2 linked regions of the Homo sapiens genome follow. The protein of the gene in region 2 purifies or fractionates together with the protein of the main gene of each other region. This does not show direct contact. Each region holds a gene or a part of one and is shown on either strand. Other genes may lie near its edges.

The links.
Region 1: the proteins of ZNF518A (region 2) and GNG12 purify together in Homo sapiens (affinity purification with mass spectrometry; one large-scale study listed by BioGRID and IntAct). This does not show direct contact.

The regions. Positions count from the first base shown.
Region 1 is NC_000001.11:67,823,330-67,827,146, forward strand, and holds part of GNG12 (guanine nucleotide-binding protein G(I)/G(S)/G(O) subunit gamma-12), read right to left. Parts: intron 1-3,817. UniProt on the Homo sapiens protein: Guanine nucleotide-binding proteins (G proteins) are involved as a modulator or transducer in various transmembrane signaling systems.
Region 2 is NC_000010.11:96,128,650-96,133,245, reverse strand, and holds the start of ZNF518A (zinc finger protein 518A), read right to left. Parts: upstream 2,950-4,596; 5' UTR 2,494-2,949; exon of another isoform or gene 661-2,493; 5' UTR 576-660; exon of another isoform or gene 1-575.

The sequences.
Region 1 (3,817 bases), on a different chromosome or scaffold from region 2:
TTAGTAATACCATTAGCTGAAAACTATTTTTAATTCAGACATTAGCAACTGGCATAAAACCCTACTTTCCACTTCTCTTGATTTTGCACTGACAATTTGGCAGCCCACTCTACCCTTAGGCCCAAAAGAGCCATCACATTTGTAAGTCTGTATTTAGGAGATTCTGACAGAGATGTATGCAAGAGGAAAGGTCAACAAATGCCCACAGGAGGATCAACATTCTAGAAAAGATGTAAGAACCGCCCCAAACCGCCATCTCACTCATAATCAAAAATATTTCAATGGCTCTAAATTACCGTTGTGCAGAAACCAGCTTAGCAAAAATAAGAAGAGCTGACACTTTTATGGCCATTGGCTGTACGGAACCGGGACATCCAATACATTCCTGATGGGAGGGCAAAATGGTTCAATCTTTCCGGAGGGGTACTACAGAGCACTGTGATTCAGCAGTCCCACTTCTGGGAATCAATCCTTAAGTACACCTTCACAAAGCAAAATGATTTATTACATCTTTATTCATCACAGCACTGTTTGTAATAGCAAAAGACTGGGAAACAGCCCAAAGGTCCAGCAGTAGAGATTGGTCAAATAAACCATGGTACATCCACATGATGGAAAACTTGTTATTCTGTGTGTGTGTGAGAAAGAGATACTTGCAGAGACAGATGTCTAAAACATACCACTAATTTTAAAAGGTAAGGTAAAGAAGAGTATATACACCACCTTTAATGAGAGAAGGGGGGAGAATTAAAATACCATATATTCTTATTTGCTTGTGTTTACAAGTTGCTACTTGCAGAGAATATGGGAAAGGCATGGATGGGGATAAGATGGGAGCAAGGTTTTTGAATTTGAAAACTTTTGATTTTTGTGAATTTGCTATTTAAAGAAATCCTGGGGCTGGGCACGGTGGATCAGGCCTGTAATCCTAGCACTTTGGGAGGCTGAGGCTGGCAGATTGCTTGAGTCTAGGAGTTCGAGACCAGCCTGGGCAACATGGTAAAACCCCATTTCTACAAAAAACACAAAAGTTTGCCAGGTGTGGTGGCAGGCACCTATAGTCCAAGCTATTCAGGAGGCTGAGGTGGGAGGATCACCTGAGCCAGGGAAGTCGATGCTGCAGTGAGCCATGATTGTGCCACTGCACTCCAGCCAGGATGACAGACTGAGATCCTGTCTCAAAAAAAAAAAAAAAAAAAGGAAGCAAGAAAAGAAAAGAAATCTTGTAGGGAATTCTTGTAAGAAATTGTCAAAAATGTTTACCTTTGTATATGGTTATAATGTTTCTTGAGGATCATATATTATATATTTTCAAAAATATTGAAGTTGTATAAGCAATTTTCCCAGAAGTGTGAAGAACAGGACAAGATTGGCATGGAAGAGATAAAGCTAAGGTGGAGTTCAACAGCTCAGGAGGAGGAGTCGAAGAAACCTGGGTTTAGGCAGGTAGGTTCTCATGTGAAAGTCAGTCAGAGAAATCTCAGTCCAGAATTCAGGAGGTAAGCACAGTGAGTGTGGAGAGGGTAATTTCTGCCCTGTGTTATATTACCTGCTGGATGTGGGTGGCTCTGAGCCCCCGGATATTTATTACAGCCATAGGAAGTCAGAGAACTGTAGGTGAATGGGAGGCAAAGATAGGAACACTAGGATTACCTTCTAGGCAGCCTGCCAGGAGCATTGATTTGCTCTTGGATAAAGCATGCTGCTCATCAAATATTTATGTTAAAAAAGAGGGCAAGGCATGTGCTGGAATATTCTGCTGAATTTGACAGAGATATTCCTTGAAAACTTGAGACTCCTGGAATTTTGTGTAATCAAATCATACTATAAACACAACAGGTGAATTTGCTATTTAAAGAAATTCTGTAAGAAATTCTTAGGAATTGTCATCTTCTGCTCTTTCTGCTTTGGGAATCTGAGTATGTCTGAAGATAGCTGCATTTAACCAGGTTAAATGTGAAAGGCATTCACGTTTCTGCATCTTTTAGTTTTTTTCACAAGGTGTATTGTCTCCAGAAAACAGCAGATGGCCTAGGTCCGAAGTATGAACCAGCACCTTGATCCTCAGGACCACTGCCTTAGCAGTTAGATTCACTAAACATGGCTGATCCTACAGGCTGTGCAAATGCCTCCCAGAAGAGGAGCCAGGAGAAGGAAGTTGATTCTGGCTACAGGCTTTCTAAAGGATCAACTTAAAAAAGCAAGAAAGTAGTACCAGTTGGTACTAAGGGGAACACAGACAAACTCTCTGAGTTTGTGGTACCTTTGATAACAAGACTCCGCACCTTTTAACCTAAACTAGAAGCCTTTTTCCAGAAGCAGCAGCTACTCATAGGTAAGTTCCAAAGGCTCCTGCAACCACTGTTACTTGCATCCTGTCCCCAAGGAAAAAGGCCTACGGCTGGTCAATAAATAACATGAATCCCTCTCCACGTTCCCAGGAGTTACTACTACTCCATTCCCTGCACCAGGCCAACTACACAACGGGTGCTGGTGACCCTGGCAAGTATTAGGCAATACTGAGCATGCTGGTGTTTAAGTAGCAATAAACAATGTCAACAGCACCCAAAGTGCTGGTCTTTACCTACCCCTCAGAAATAATGAATTGAAGAGAAAGAAACTCATCATAGGCAATGTGTACCACTGAATGTTTGTTTCCTAGCATATATAATCAGTATTACTTTTTTACATGTACCTTGCTGACATACCACAGAAAACATGGTTTTATTCCTTCATTCCACTGACATTCATGAAGTTTATATGTTTCCCAATAAAGCCTGACATGATAAACCAAATGGTTAAGTGACAGACTCTGCCAGCTGATGGCATCTAGAGGACTACTGTGGCTACAGGGGCTTTGAGAAGCAGAGCTGCTGGTAGCCATATTGTGCCTTTGTGTGTGTTAAAAAAAGGCATTCCTTCCATGTACACCTAGACTTTTGCAGGCTTGATAGCATCAGAAAGAAGTTCCCTTTTCTCCTAGCAGAGGCAATCCTACTCCAGGATGCATGTGGTTTTGTTTGTTTAGCAGATGTGAGCCTCCCATTTGCCTCCTTGCCCAGGCACTTTTGTGCAGTGAACAACCTGTATAACAGTTCAAGGTATCCCTGTCAAGAAGTCACAATCCATTCCTTCTGCTTCTTGGCCAGACATCCAACCCTCCCATGACAACTTATCTGCACAGCCAATCATGACCTTATATACCCACATGAAGCCCCATGGTCTAATGTGCAGGCCATGGTCTAATAATTCAGAAGATTTCATTAGTCTAGGCACAGCTCAGGCACCTAGTCTAAAGGTTACACCTTTCTAATTTGCCTGAGATTCTGGTTAAACTTGGTATGATGATGTTATCTCAATAAGGTCTTCAATAAGCCTCAATAAAGTCCAAGAGGCTTTTAGATTTTGATTCCTCTTTCCACCCTTAGATTTAGCTCATGTTGGGATTTAATGGATTTCAGTTTGAGTCTTCATTTGAGAAAAAACCTTATGTTTTTCCTCTGCAATAATTTATCCCCCCAAAACAACACAAAATTTGAGGTAACTGCAAGCTTGGGGTCTGAGTCAAAGGGTCCCAGTGGGGAGTTAAGGGTTTAGTGTCCAGTGGTCAAGGACGTCTTGGCTAGTGCCATCTGAAGCTAAATAAAAGCCTGATTATTTCACATCAATGAAGTTAAGATTCTGCCTCCAATGGGCTCATGTGAGTTTGCACAAAGCCATTCTGAATCAAGACAATTCTCTACACACAATGCAAGTGCAGAGATGGCAACTGATTCAGACTTCACTCCAGTGAGCATGTGTGATCACGCAAACTCAA
Region 2 (4,596 bases):
AGCTTTGAAACATCTATCTACCACCTTTATCTCCACTGTTCATTACCCAGAAGACTTTAATGCCACTTTTCTATTCAGAAGGATGATAGTTAAAGTTATATTTGGATTTCTAATAAAATGTTAAGTAATAAACTATGAAACCAAAAATTACTTTTTTTGCTTAGATTAAAATGAAAACTCATGTTTAAGTATTTTATTTTAGCCAAAAAATAAAATAAAACTATAACTTATATAACTTATGAAAACTCATGTATATGTAAAACTACAGGTTGAGTGTCTCTTATTTGAAATGCTTGGGAACAGAAGGGTTTCATTCTTTTTTTCTTTTTCTTTTTTAGGATTTTAGAGTATTTGCATTATACCAGTTGAGCATCTCAAATCCAAAAATTCAAAATCCAAAATGTTCCAAAGAGCATTTCCTTTGACCATCATGTCAGCACTCAAAAAATTTTGCATTCTGGATTTTTGGATTTGGGATACTTAACCTATATTTTACTTTATTTAGTCCAATATTAAAACATACCAACTTACTACTTAATAGACTATATACTCCAGTATTTCAATCTTTACCATACCTCTTTCTTCAGGAACAAAAGGCACACAATTTAACACTTGCACAATGTCACAATCAGGAACAGTGATCAAAAGAAGAGATGATATCTGGAAATGAAGACCAAGATTTTAAAACTTTTGACGACAAAAACTGTTCAATTACACTTCACATTCAACTTAGGTGTATAAAGAAATGTAAAAAAAAAAAAAAAAAACTAAGAAAAAACTTCTATACACTTAAGCATACATCATTGATGACCAGTGATAACATGTCACAAATTTGCAAAAGTCACAACCTAAAGCTTAGAATCAATCTAACTCAGTATCTTCATTTATTACAAGAAAAAGAAAATGAGCCTTGCCCAAAGTCACAAAACTAGAAATAATATCTGGATCCGGTTCCAATTCAGTTATCCTACCACCACAATACTAACCCTTAATACTCATTTCTGGTATCTAATATGCCATGAAAACTGCTCACCATGAGAAGCCAATACCCCATATAGAACTGAAATACTCACAGCCTACACACCTGGGACCAGATAATAAATAAAAATTTCAAGACGGTGTTAAAACCTTTTTGTTCTGCTAATAGCACTTTGCCACAAAACCTTCAGTAGCATACCTGAAGGAATGTGGGCAAGATTCAAGTCTCCTATCATTTAAAGAAAAAAAAAAAAAGTAGTATTAAGTGCTCTAAAGTATGCAATGTCACAATGCCTCAATGAGAACAATTCTAAACAACTATAAACAGAAAAGTAAACAACAAAAATACACTTAAAGGGCATTTAAAGCATATCCTGAAGTCAAATTATAGATCTAGGCTAAAGTATAGTCCCTCTGTAATATTTCAAAATATAGAAACTTCTGGGATTACAGCATACTATTACCAGAGAGACTAGAACAGAATCCGAAGTGTGACCATGGCAAAAAATTGAAGCATTTAAAAGTTCATACATTATCAATGCACACAGTGGGTGTTCATTGTGGTTACTGTCTTTTGTCCTTCCATAAAACCAGATATAAAACGTTTTATTTGGTAATTATACTTATTTTCACGCAACAAACAGGAAACATTTGGTTGTGTAACATACCTACATTTTATTCTCCCCTTTTGTTGGCAATTTTCTGTATCTAGGGATGATCTAATTTACAGTTTCTATGGCAAAAATCAACATCGTTTACTATGCTTACCTTCCCCAGGAAATCCCAACACCCTCAAAGTGTTAACAGAACGCAATGTCTCTTTATAAATTTCAGAAAAGACAATTTTGCTGAAAGATAGTGAATGCATTTCTATAAATTTGCAGTTAAACTCAAAAAATGTTAGGAAATTTCACTGAATCAATTTAAATGTTTTAAATTAAACCTGAGGATATCAACCTTAGAGTACACTCAAATCAGACCCCTTGCTGCAGAAAAAGCAATTCAACAATTACCAGTAACTAGATCTAACATGCACACTTTCAAGTTAATAGAATTCCTATCCTGACAGTTTGGTGTCTTCATGTTTTATCACTGCGACAACTGTACAAATTCCAACATTCTTATGAATTCCTTGAACATTGACTTATTTTATTTTTCTAGGGTTTTTTAGACGTTTGACAACATACTCAACAATGTTTGCACTAAAACAGCTCACATACACTACTTGCTCTCAAATTTAAACCTAAAAAGAAAACTGAGTCTTAACTGTTGTATTCTGAACTTTAAAGCTACATCTGTTTGATCGGTCCACTTAAGAGTTAAAACATTTTTCCTTATATACATTTCGCTCTATGTACTTTTCAATTACCACAGCCACCTAGGAAGAGACTGTCTACTTGACAAAGAGGACACCATGTAACGAATAGAGTCAAAATGAACCCTACATGTGAGAAAGCCAGTTACAAAGAAATCCAACTGCCACTGGGTGTGGTTAGGGTCTGCGGGGAAGAGCACCTTTGGCCAACTCTGGAGAAGAGCGAGCGCGTCAGGGAGCAGGGCATCTCTGCAAGAAATGGCCCCCAATGACCATACGCTGGGCCAGCAATAGGGACGCCGTCGAGTCGGGCCTGCGAACCTATAGCTCGAGGGGTGCGGTCTGCGGGGCGCCCTTGCTGTCTCCACCAACCACGAAACCCGCCGAGTGAGTGCTTCGAGCGCCGCGCGCCCAGCTTCGCCCCAAACACCGCGCCCGATCCGCCCCTTCCTCCGGGGTTCGGCTGCCCCGCGGGGAGCGCGGAGGCACACCGTCTCCTACTCCCACCCAGCTCCTAGAATGTAGGAGAGTGTAGAGTTCAAAAAGCCCGGAAGTAAAACAACCCCAGGTTAAGAAAGTAAGGGTAAGCTCTAGCAGTCGGCAAAAGCGCTCGGCAAAAAAACCCCGACTTCTCCAGAAAAACTTTGCGGCAAGTTAAGCGGAAGCGCTGAATGGCCGGGACTATTTAACTCGCGCTTCCTCTCACAAGAGGCGGATCCCTGGACCTGTTTGGGGGACCCTGACGGTCCACAAACTCGCCGTTTGCCTGCTGGGTGGCCCTCTAGAAGTTCTGACATCCTAAAAGGTCTGGGCAGTCCCGCTGACGGGGAATACCTGTCGTAGTACCCATTGCCTGCGAGTCCCTGATGGCGGCCATTACACTTCCATCCGGGTATTGCCGAAAAGCTGATCGCAGCGCTACCGGGAGCGCACGCTGCGGCGGAGGGATCTGCGCTTTACCTGAGACAAGCGGAAGAGAACGGAGGCCGGCAGGGTCCGCGCTCGGTCTGACGAGACTAGGCCATGGAGCTGGGTTCGCCGCTGACCTCTCCATCTAGCGCGCGGCCCCGGCGCCCACCAGTCCAGTGACCCACTACTACCTCTTTGCTCACCAGCAGCTGCTGATCTTACTGCCGGTGAAATGGCAGACAAACGTCTACTCTGTGCTCTTCAGAGTAGACACCAGGAGCAGGAACTGTATGCACTTCCCAAGCCCTTGCTGACTGGGAATGGTCTCCACCCTGAGATTTTAACCAGTTCCGGTTTAGCAAATGGCGCCTCCCCACCTCTGGCTTCTGGCACGCAGGTTTTAGCAACCATTGTAGCCCACGTCAACGAAAGAAGCTGCCGCCAGTAGTTCTAGAAGACATACTGAACTCCAAACCTGTATATATTGAATAATTGATCAAAAACTATCTTCACAATGAGGGAGGCTCACATCTCCCTCAAACGAATACTTCCTCTACCTGACAACAGGGCTGGACAGTTAATATGGTTGGCTTTACCCCAAAGGCCAGTGTGGCTCCTCTTCTGTTCTTTATAAATCCAACCTACTAATTGATACCTCACTTTCTACATAATTCTACATAAATTATCTTCCTTTTAAAATGTGGGGAGGGAATAAGTGGCGGCAAACGTTTAAGCAACAACAAAAAACCTTGGCGCAGAAGGATATACCAATAAATTGAAAGTGAAACTATGATCAGATTTTTCATTTTTTAATGTTCCGTGTTTTCTTAAGTAGCATGTATGACATTTATAATTTTTAAAAATTTTTTAAAATATGTGTATGATACATATTTTTCATTGTCTTAGGGCAGGCTTTTGAAAATGTCAGCCTGTAGCCAAATGCAAGATTTTCTCCATCCTTTAATAAAAAGCACACTGAGAAATCCTCACTTTGTCTTTAGGAAGCCTTCTTTATTATTGTGTTTACTGGGCTACACAATTCCACCTAGAAAAGGCGAATGAGCGGAAATTCACATTAGTCATATTTATGCTTGTGTAAAACACACAAGGAGAAATCTTCTGTAAATACCAAAGGGGATGCCATTATGGAATGAAGAACATGTTTACAAAGTGGATTTTATTCCGCATCGTACATCACCCATCTCTCTTCAGGTCCTCATTTCTGTGCAAGCCAGACATGCACACACATCACAGCAGAAAGAGAGAGAACGAGATTTTTCTTTTAATAACAAAAAACGATGTTAGTTTGGAAAAATGGACAGAGTTTTTTGTTCTGTGTTTTGATGTAGTTTTTGTTTTTTCGATTAAGATATTGCATCCCCCCCCACAGTATT